Linked DNA regions of Homo sapiens: regions 1 and 2 are each reported to be linked to region 3. Evidence: microRNA targets listed by miRTarBase, many of them from high-throughput screens and not tested one by one. Region 3 holds a microRNA gene; each other region holds the end of a gene's coding sequence.
What was found. The annotated mature microRNA hsa-miR-1255b-2-3p reads AACCACUUUCUUUGCUCAUCCA and lies in region 3 at 1,196-1,217, opposite strand. An mRNA with a match to its seed (bases 2 to 7 or 8) in the 3' UTR can be bound and repressed. Matches are read on the target gene's strand: a 7mer-m8 pairs with bases 2 to 8, a 7mer-A1 pairs with bases 2 to 7 and ends in A, and an 8mer does both.

Region 1 (3,357 bases), not on the chromosome of region 3:
ATCCTGTTCCACAACCTCAGGGATGAGAATGTGCTTTTTCCTGGGGCCCTTGTATTCAAATGATGGTGGAGTATCTGAACTTGGAATAACAAATCCCAGTTCTCTGTTTCTGCTCAGACCCATCTAAAGGCAGTCACTTCCTGCCACTTGCCTTAAATAATTGATCTCTCAAATAGAACCCATGTTCCCTGCTCTCAAACCCTGCTGATAATGATGCCAGTGTAGATGAGGACCTGCACGATAAGCTTTGAAGGTAACAGGTATTATAACAGGGGTAAGCAGCTTTAGGAAAGTGGAGTGCTCTTTTGCTGACTTGTTCTGGGGGACTTTGCTGATTCTCATGAGTATAACTGCTGGGTCCATTGACCTAGTACATCCTTGAATTTTTTAGTTAACCTCCCTTCTTTATAAAAGCTACATGAATAAATTTATTTGAATGGTGGTATGATAGCAGCTATCCAGGATGCTAGCAAACATGGATTCACACAAAGAGAATGGAGTCCCCTGCAGGAATTTGAATTTCCCATTTTAGTTTCAAGGGCACAATCTCAGATCATTCTAGGAGGAGGGGTGGTGAGGCAGTCATAGTCTCCAAGCCTTTGGGAATATGAGATCCTTTCCTCCCAGGTCACTTCCTCCTTTTGGCTTAGCACTTTCATTCTTTTTAGTCGCCATTATGTGCAGTCACCTCTTTCCTCTTTCATTTCTACTTTATTGGCTTGAGGATGCACCTAGTAGCATAAATACTGTCCACAAAAATTCCACCCCTAGCCATCACCTCCCCTCCATTTTCAGGAATCTCAAGTTGAGGGTTTGTAGTATATTTTGGTTTTGTTACTCATGAGCAGTATAGCTAGCTGAATTGGGACATCAGTGTATTGTTTCAGGCTGACTAGAGAGGAGCACCTCTAGAACCAAATGAATGTCATGCCAGAAGGCTACCATTCTGACCATCATTAGTGGGCCTAAAAACCAGCTAGAAATGATGGAAAACTCATTAATGAAGAATGCTTAAAAGCTGGGCAAGTAGACAAAGCTTATTTTCTTTTCTAAATAACTAGGTGAAGGAAGAATGAAGAAAGTTCCAAATGTTTAGGAAACACCAAATGTGGCCAATCATTGTGTCAGACATGCTCACATGTGTGCATTTAATCCTCACAGTAGCCCTAAGAAGTAGGAATTATAATCCTCATTTTATAAATTTGGAAACAGGCTTAGAACGGTCTCTTGGTGGAAAAAATATCTGAAGACATCCATTTCAAAAAAGCAAACATTGGCCATTTCTGAGTGATTTGGTAACAAAGTTTTGTTTATTGTCTAAATTTAAGATAAAATGTGTCATTTTCATTACGAAGTACAATTTTATGGAATACTAAATAAACATATATAAATAAGCCTTGGCCAACATTATAAACCAGGATCTGACATAGATATAAATCCATGCCTTCCAACTTCCCTTGACGTCACATTATCTTCTCTTAAGAGATAGTCACTTTGGCTAATAGGGAAAAGAAAACCAGTAACATCAGAAAACAATTTCCATCTGGCCTGGCTCTGACTGGCATCATCACTGTGAGCCATATGCCTTACTTTTCTCTGACACTTCAGGATGTTCCCTCCTGGTATCAGCTGTGCACCAAAGCTAAAAGTTCACAAGGCTCTCCTTGCCATTCTCAATAAATCAGTTTTGCAAAATCTCCAGGCCTTCTTGCAGAGTATTCAGGCATATAGGGTTGTAGTTGATCAGCCATAAAGATGGGGCTCCCTTTAGGTCCTGCAGCAGTATGGCACCAGTTTGAAAGCCTCCATCCAGTCCACATAATGAAAGTCAGAAAAAGACCATTTACCACTTATCTGTGCTTTCTACAAAAAAAAACCAGATACCTGGATGAGGGCCAAGACTGCCTCCCTCATCATTTCACTATATGTCTATGTTGACAAAGTCAGCAAGAGGAGAGATATCAAGTGCTTGCAAGGTCCCTAGGCCTGTCCTTACATTCAGACCTTCCCTTGCTACTTGTAATTCCTTGACAGAAGACATTGTGGTAGTGGGTACTCAGGAGAGAAGCAACAAGAATGGGACAATTCTCCCAGGGCAAACACTGAATCCTCTCTTTCTGTTACAGAGTAAAGTTCCCTGAGTCCTGGTCTTGATTGTTCATGTAGACAGAATGATAACTATTGAAACTGTCCCTAATTTAGTAATTCTCTCTGAGCTCCCTTAAGAGGGCCCAAGTACTCTTATTTTCCATTTCTCTTGACAAAGAGTAAAAAATGAGACTAAGAGCCTTGACTATCATATGTCTGTTGAGCACTTGATACCTGAAAAATTTAGATGACTGGGGGTGGGGAAGCTTTGAATAACCAGATATATACATATAGATAGATAGCTAAAGGAATCTCATCACTACACTTTCATTTTTTTATTTATAAAGTACTCCTTATGTATCAACTCTTGTGCTAGGCACAGAAGATGCAATGCTGAATAAAACAGACAGCTTAGATTCCTTTTTGTGAAGTGTAACATGTACCCTTCCCAAATGTTTTATTAATCACAGATTCCTATCATTGGGTGCCTCATAATTTTGTATTCTTTCACCACTTCTAAAGTCAAGCTCTACATGGTAACTTTCCTCAGTTTGGAGACACTAGACATGCTTCCCTTCTTCTGTGGAGTTTCTGGTGTCTAAGAAGGCTCGATCGCCTACTAAAGTTTCTCTTGCATAAGCTACACGTATAAGGCTGCTCACCTGTGTGAGTTCTCTGGTGTTTAATAAGGTGGGAGTTCTGAATGAATCTTTTTCCACATTCATCACATTTAAAGGGCTTCTCTCCTGTGTGAATTCTTTGGTGTGTGTGTAGATTTGTGTTATGACTAAAGCTTTTCCCACACCATGAGCATCTATATGGTTTTATTCCTTGATGGGTCATGAAGTGCTTATTAAGATCTGAACTCCATCTAAACCTCCTGTCACATTGTTGACATTTATAGGGTTTCTCTCCAGTGTGAATTCTGTGGTGTTTAATAAGATCAGAGCTAACTCTGAAGCTTTTCCCACATTCCTGACACTTAAAAGGTTTCTCCCCTGTGGGGCCTTTCCCATGAAGATCCATAAGTTTTGGAAGCTCTTGTTTACAAGTTGCAGGTTTCTTTCTTTTCTTCCTTGGAAAAGCTCGATGCCATTTCTGTACACTGTGTGTATCACCAGGATTTTCCCTGCCCATTGTTTTCTGGGCAATTTTCATTCTGGTCTTTTTTGATACTTCGCATCCTGATGTTTGTATTTCTGATGTAGAAACAGATATAGGATGATCATTTCCAGTGTCATTTTTTAGCTTTAACCCTGTTAGAATAAA
Region 2 (3,000 bases), not on the chromosome of region 3:
GAAAATGAATACTTTAAGATTAAGAGAGGTATATTTGGATAAGTGATTATTTTTCTCTCTTAAAAATCTTTATTGTTGTCATTCCCTATTTATGTTTTTTATGTTTTTAAAGAGACAGGTGTTAGTGGACTAGAGAATCAGCAGAGGCTTTCAAGACCTCCTGAGGTGAACTAGGACTGAAAGCTGTGTACTGTTTGGGAGGAAGGAGGCTGGACTCTTTGAGATGTGTGAGCCAGGAGGAAGGGGCCCCATTCTAGGCCTTGGTCTCTAAGAATGGGTTCACTTGTCTGATGGTCTACGGTCTGGTATGATATAAAAGTCCTTTCTTGCATTCCAGGGTCTCCTCATGCTGCTACAGAACCTACCTACAATACACTGGGGCAACGAAGAAATTGGGCTGCTTCTCGCCGAGGCATACAGACTCAAGTACATGTTTGCCGATGCCCCAAATCACTACCGCCGATAGGTGCTGTCTCCTCCGGGGACCCAGACTGCCTTCATCTCTGATGGCAGTCTGATCACTGTGGCCACTGTGCGAGCCGTGGACCCCGGCCAGGAACCACTCCTGTTGTACAAAGCTCACACCCACCGCCCAGGTCTTAACTTTCTGGCATCCACCACTCCATGTCTCTGGATGTGTCACTTGGACCACTGTCAGTATTCCATGCCGCGTGGATGGGCCCAGTTCTGGGAGAGGACAGAAAAGGTGGTACAGGGTTGTCTGCCCCTTTAAAAGAAACTGGACAAAGAAGGGGAAGGCTCAGGGTCTCACCTCACATTGTCCCTACAAGGACAGGCCCCAACTGATAACCGTTGCTTTTTTTTTTTTGTGAACATAGTTTGATTTGATCACAGGTCAAAAACGCCTTATATTTTCGAAAGACTCCTGGCCCCTCTTCCCTCTTCCTGGTTTCCTAGCCGTTCCCCTTCTGCCCCAGTCTGAGCCAGTGAGGGGTAGCTTTTTAAAACCATTATTCTAGATGGAGGAGGCACTGATGCTTGTAACTCTGGAAAGAGGCCTACACCCAAGGGCTAGGAATTTTATTTTTCCTTTTCTCACCAGGTGTCTGCATGTGTGTGTGGGTGTGAATGTGTATACATGCCCATCAGCATTTAGTCACATGTCTGAATTTCTGTGTCCAGACGAGCCCCATCAAACTAGTTGGGAAGGGCCCCAGTGACCAAGTGTATAAGCATCCCTTGAAGAGGGATTGGGGCAGGGGAGGCAGAAGGGGCTCTCCAGACCCCTTTTCCATGATGACCCACTCCAAGATATTATGTGTAAATTGTGTTATTATGTATATGGGTAAAGATGTACAAATATATGTCCTCTTTGTAGCAGATATGATTTTATATTTATAATGTGCATCAACATGTGAAAGCAATCTAGGTCACTAGCACAGAGGAAGTTGCCAGGAAGGTGGCTTCAGCACCTCCAGGTTGGTTCTGGGTGTCCTGCTGTGAGGGGTAGAACGGGAGGCTGCTGAAGTGAGTAGCTGAGCAGCTGGAGCCATCCCAAGCATCAGTGTCTCAGAGTCCTCCTCGCCCCTTTCTTCACCCCGCCCCCCAACCCCCAGACTTTCCTGGAGCATCTGCCCTTTGCTCCTAGCAGCCTCCCCAGGAAGGGACTGCAGAGGCGGGCAAGCCCTCTCTATGTGTTTTTATCCCCACCTTCCCCGGAATCTGGGGAGGGCTTTTGTTTTTACGTTTTCAAGTTCAGCATTGTATTCGGACAGAAGCTGTGACTGAAGACTCAGTGCCAAGGAAAGGGGCTTCTTGTGTGTCCCTCGGGTTTGGGGCTCTTCTCAGAGAGCAGCACTCCATATCCCTTACTGTCACCTTCACTCCCCACACAGCTCATGAGATGTGTGACCCCTGTTTGAGTTTTGGTATTTGGTAGTGGAGGGTGGGGGGATGGGGGCCAGCAGCTGTCATCCTCCTGGGAAGCCGAGCAGTGTCCCTGGTGGGTAACACCCTCAAGTCTCTTTGCCAGTGAGGCCCCACCACATCGGTGTGAGTTAGGTTTCTCATCTGGAGCTGTTTCTCAGGCATTCTTCCCAACCCTCTTCCTTTTCCCCTTCGGTGTGCCTCAGTGGTCTCCTTCATAGAGTGAGAGGGCTTGAGACCCTCCCTCAACCGGACTAATTAAAGAAAGACACTTGTGTTCCCAAGTGGTGGTTTTATTTTTTTAGTTTTTATGTTTGTATGGGAAATTGTGGATAAAGTGAAAAGAATTGTAAATAAATGGTGTATTTCCTCCTCCATCTGCTGGTTTTTCTCCTGTATGTGTCCATGGAACCTAAAGAGTCTCCTCTTTTTGAGTTTTTCTTGCTGATACTAGTAGGTGTGTGGTCAGGCCTTCTGTGAGGTGAGCAGGGCATCAGCAGAGGATCAACCAGCAAACACTTACCCGACATCCATCTATGAAAGGTACTGTGGAAACTACAAAAATGAGTAACTTGGTAAATGAAACTACTAAAAAGAGTTAACTTGCCAACCACTTTGAGAAGCACTTTACATGGATTATTTCATTCATCTAAAAGAAGTATGTTATCTGATAGAGGGTAGAAAACAGACTAGAATTTCAGTGCTGGATGAAAACTTGGAGATATCTAGTTTAACCCCCTCATTCGCAGAGGAAAATCCAAGCCAAGGCCAAGGAAGACAGCATCAGAGTCAGAACCAGAGACCCGGTGTCCTCCTGGCTTGCCTGTTCAGTGTGTTTCCACCAGAGTAGAAAGAACTAAGATGGCCGCCATGTAGGATTGTCTTTAAGTCTTTTTTCGGTTGTCAGCTGTTGTTTTTTTTTTCTTGGTAACCTTACTGTGAAATATCTCAAGAAAGGTAGCTGATTACATTTCATCTACAAAGGACAGGTTGGAATGGTTTCTCCACCCAGAATTCCTTCCTAGGATTTATTTGAGAGTATTTCTTGGTTTCAGTCATTAGGAACCACATAAAAATTAAATTCAGCTATGTGTAATAAAAACCAAAAATAGG
Region 3 (3,357 bases):
ATGCAAAGGAAAAGTTCTGGAAGGAACTTTTAGAAAAGTGCTACTCCAGTGGACATATGAATGATAAGAAAACGAAACAGCCTTATTACTGATATGGAAACAGTCTGAGTGGTCTAGAAGGAAGATCAAACCAGTCATCACATTCCCTTAAGCTAAAGCCTAACCCAGAGCAAGGCGCTAAATCTCTTTAAAGCTATGAAAACTGTTAGAGGTAAGGGAGCTGTAGAATAAAAGTCTGAAGCTAACAGAGGTTGGTTCATGCAGTTTAAGGAAAGAAGCTGTCTTTCTGTAACATAAAAGTACAAGGTAAAGCAGCAAGTCCTGATGTGGAAGCTGCAGCAAGTTATCCAGAAGATCTAGCTAAGATAATTGATCAAAGTGGCTACCCTAAACGACAGATTTCCAATGCAAATGAAACAGCCTTCTATCAGAAGCAGATGCCATTTAGGACTTTCACAGCTAGAGAGGAGAAGCTGATGCCTGCCTTCAAAGCTTCGAAGGACATGCTGGTTCTCTTGTTAGGGGCTTATGCAGTGGTGACATTAAGCAGAAGCCAATGCTCATTTACCATTCTGAAAATCCTAAGGCCCTTAAGAATTATGTTTAATTGAATCTGCTCTATAAATGGAATAACAAAGCCTGGATGAGGGCACATCTCTTTACAGCATGTTTTACTGACTATTTGAAGCCCACTATTGAGACCTACTGCTCAGAAAAAAAGATTCCTTTCAAAATACTACTGGGCATTGACAATGCACCTGGTCATCCAAGGGCTCTGATGGAGATGTACATGGAGATTAACATTTTCATTGTATCCCATAGATCAAAGAGTAATTTCAACCTTCAGGTCTTATTTAAGAAACACATTTTGTAAGGCTATAGCTGCCACAGATAGTGATTCCTCTCATGGATCTGTGAAAAGTCAACTGAAAACCTAGAAAGGATTGACCATTCTAGATGCCTTATTAAGAACTTTTGTGATTCGTGGGAGGTCAAAATAACAATATTAACAGGAGTTTGGAAGAAGTTAATTCCAACCCTAGTGGATCACTTTGAGGGGTAGAAGACTTCAGTAGAGGAAGTCACTGCAGATGAGGTGAAAACAACAAAAGAACTAGAATTAGAAGTACAGACTGAAGGTGTGAGAATTGTTGCAATCTCATGATAAAACTAACAGATAAGGAGTTGCTCCTTATGGATGAGCAAAGAAAGTGGTTTCTTGAGGCGCAAACCACTTTCTTTGCTCATCCGTAAGAAGCAACTCCTAGTGAAGATGCTGTGAACACTGCTGAAATGACAACAAAAGGATCTATTATAGAGTACTACATAAACTTAGTTGATAAAGCAGCAGCAGGGTTTGAAAGGACTGACTCCAATTTGGAGAAAAGTTCTATTGTGTGTAAGAAGCTATCAAACACCGTTACAAGCTACAAATACATCTTTTATGAAAGGAAGAGTCTATCGATGCAGAAACTTCACTGATGTCTTATTTCAAGAAACTGTCACAGCCCCAACCTTCAGCAACCACCACTCTGATCAGTCAGCAGTGATCAACATTAAGGTAAGCCCCTCCACCAGCAAAAAGAATACAACTTACTGAGGTTCAGATGATTGTTAGCACTTTTTAGCAATGAAGTATTTTTAAATTAAGGTATATACATTGGTTTTTAAGATATAATGCTATTGCACACTTAACAGACTATGGTACAGTATAAACATAACTTTTACATGCACTGGGAAACCAAAAGATCTGTGTGACTTGCTTTAATGCAATATTTACTTTATTGCAATGGTCTAGAACCAAACCTGCAATATCTCCAAGAGAAGCCTGTATATCTGGGAGGAGAAGTATGGCTCATATAATAACTCTAATTTTTTGAGGGTTCCAATTTCTCTACATGTTTGTCAAAACTTGTTATTGTCTGTCTTTTTTATTTTAGTCATCCTAGTGGGTATGAAGTGATATCTCACTGTGGTTGTGATCTGCATTTCCCTGAGGACTAATAACGTTGAGTATCTCCTTATGTACTTATTGCCATTTCTATTATATGTCTTCTCTGGGGAAAAAAAAGTATTATATATTCAAATCCTTTACCTATTTTTAAGTTTGGATATTTGTCTTTTTATTGTTGCACTGTAAGTGTTCCTTATACATTCTGGATACTAAACTGTAACCAGACACATGATCTGCAAAACATTTTCTCCCATCCTGTGGGTCACTCTTTTTATTTTTATTTATTTTTTAAAAACAGCATTCATTGATTTTTTTTTCCTGAAAATTAAACAGGTTTTGATAAAAACTTGGTGACACTTAACAGTGAATTTTCTGATTTCTTCTGGAAACCATACCTAGTAACATGAATAGAAAAAAATCTTTGCATCCTGAGCAAAGGAGACAGAAAAAAAAATCCCCATAAATTCCATATTATGTGTAAGTATGGCTAAAGGCAACTGAGAATAGTAAAATCTACACAGGAAGACGTAAGTGTGTGACAGGGAATAACCAGAACAAAGCTTAATGTGGCAGCTGTGCAAATTCTCAAACAACTAATCACTCCCAAAAGGAGAGGGCTTCATCCTTCATACGAACTATTCTTAAAACAATATAATAGAATCTTGCTTCATGGTTTCAACAGAGAGGAATTTTTATATTACATAGCCAAAGAACTGGTTTTACAACCTCAGCAATTATTTATAGAATAAAATCTTCAAATTAAAAACAATCTCAAATTTGACTTTCTGAGTATGTGAAATAACCTAGGCAAGAATACTGAAAATGGCGTTTCATTCACCAAATATTTTTTGAGCACCTTTTATATGTCAGGTACTATTACAGGTATTGGAAAACAACAATGGACAAAACACACAAAAAATCCCCAATGTCACAGAATTTACAGCCCGATGGAGCAAACAACACATGAAATGAAAAAGCAAAATATACATAGAAAGTTACTGTTATGGAGAGAAATAAAGTAGAAAAGGGGATAGGTAGTATCAGTTAAAGGCCGTGATTTTAAATAGGATGGTGAAGTAGGGCTTCACCAAGAAGGTTACATAAGCAAAGACCTGAAATACACAGGGAAGAAAAAATCCAGGTATCCAGGGAAGAGCATTTCAGGCAGAGTAAATGCAAAATCCTAAAATAGAGTCATGCTTGGCCTGAGTTACTAAGCAAGTAGATGTGGTTAGAGCACAGTAAAGAAGAAAACAGTAGAAGTAATAATTAGGACCAGATAATATAAGATCTTGAAGCCACCATAAGGACTTCAGTTTTGCTTTAGGTCCGACAGGGAGCCACTTAGAATGTTGATGAGAAGAGCGGCATGATTTAACTTATGTTTCTAAGGATCACTTTGA

Region 1: miRTarBase lists ZNF75D as a target of hsa-miR-1255b-2-3p. Seed matches in the 3' UTR shown: 7mer-m8 at 2,598-2,604 and 8mer at 1,845-1,852.
Region 2: miRTarBase lists TBC1D22B as a target of hsa-miR-1255b-2-3p. Seed matches in the 3' UTR shown: 7mer-m8 at 2,170-2,176.

The regions. Positions count from the first base shown.
Region 1 is chrX:135,284,503-135,287,859 of GRCh38, forward strand. It overlaps ZNF75D (zinc finger protein 75D), which reads right to left. Exons shown (of 7, transcript NM_007131.5): 7 at 1,289-3,344. The coding sequence ends at 2,635. Among named protein-coding and RNA genes, the nearest start is that of ETDC, 23 kb to the right of the region's middle.
Region 2 is chr6:37,330,707-37,333,706 of GRCh38, forward strand. It overlaps TBC1D22B (TBC1 domain family member 22B), which reads left to right. Exons shown (of 13, transcript NM_017772.4): 13 at 338-2,264. The coding sequence ends at 466. It overlaps LOC105375040 (a long non-coding RNA gene), which reads right to left. Exons shown (of 4, transcript XR_007059566.1): 4 at 2,364-2,442. Among named protein-coding and RNA genes, the nearest start is that of RNF8, 22 kb to the right of the region's middle.
Region 3 is chr1:167,996,559-167,999,915 of GRCh38, reverse strand. MIR1255B2 (microRNA 1255b-2) reads right to left here and starts at 1,256; the gene lies at 1,190-1,256. The region is part of intron 7 of DCAF6 (DDB1 and CUL4 associated factor 6); the gene reads right to left.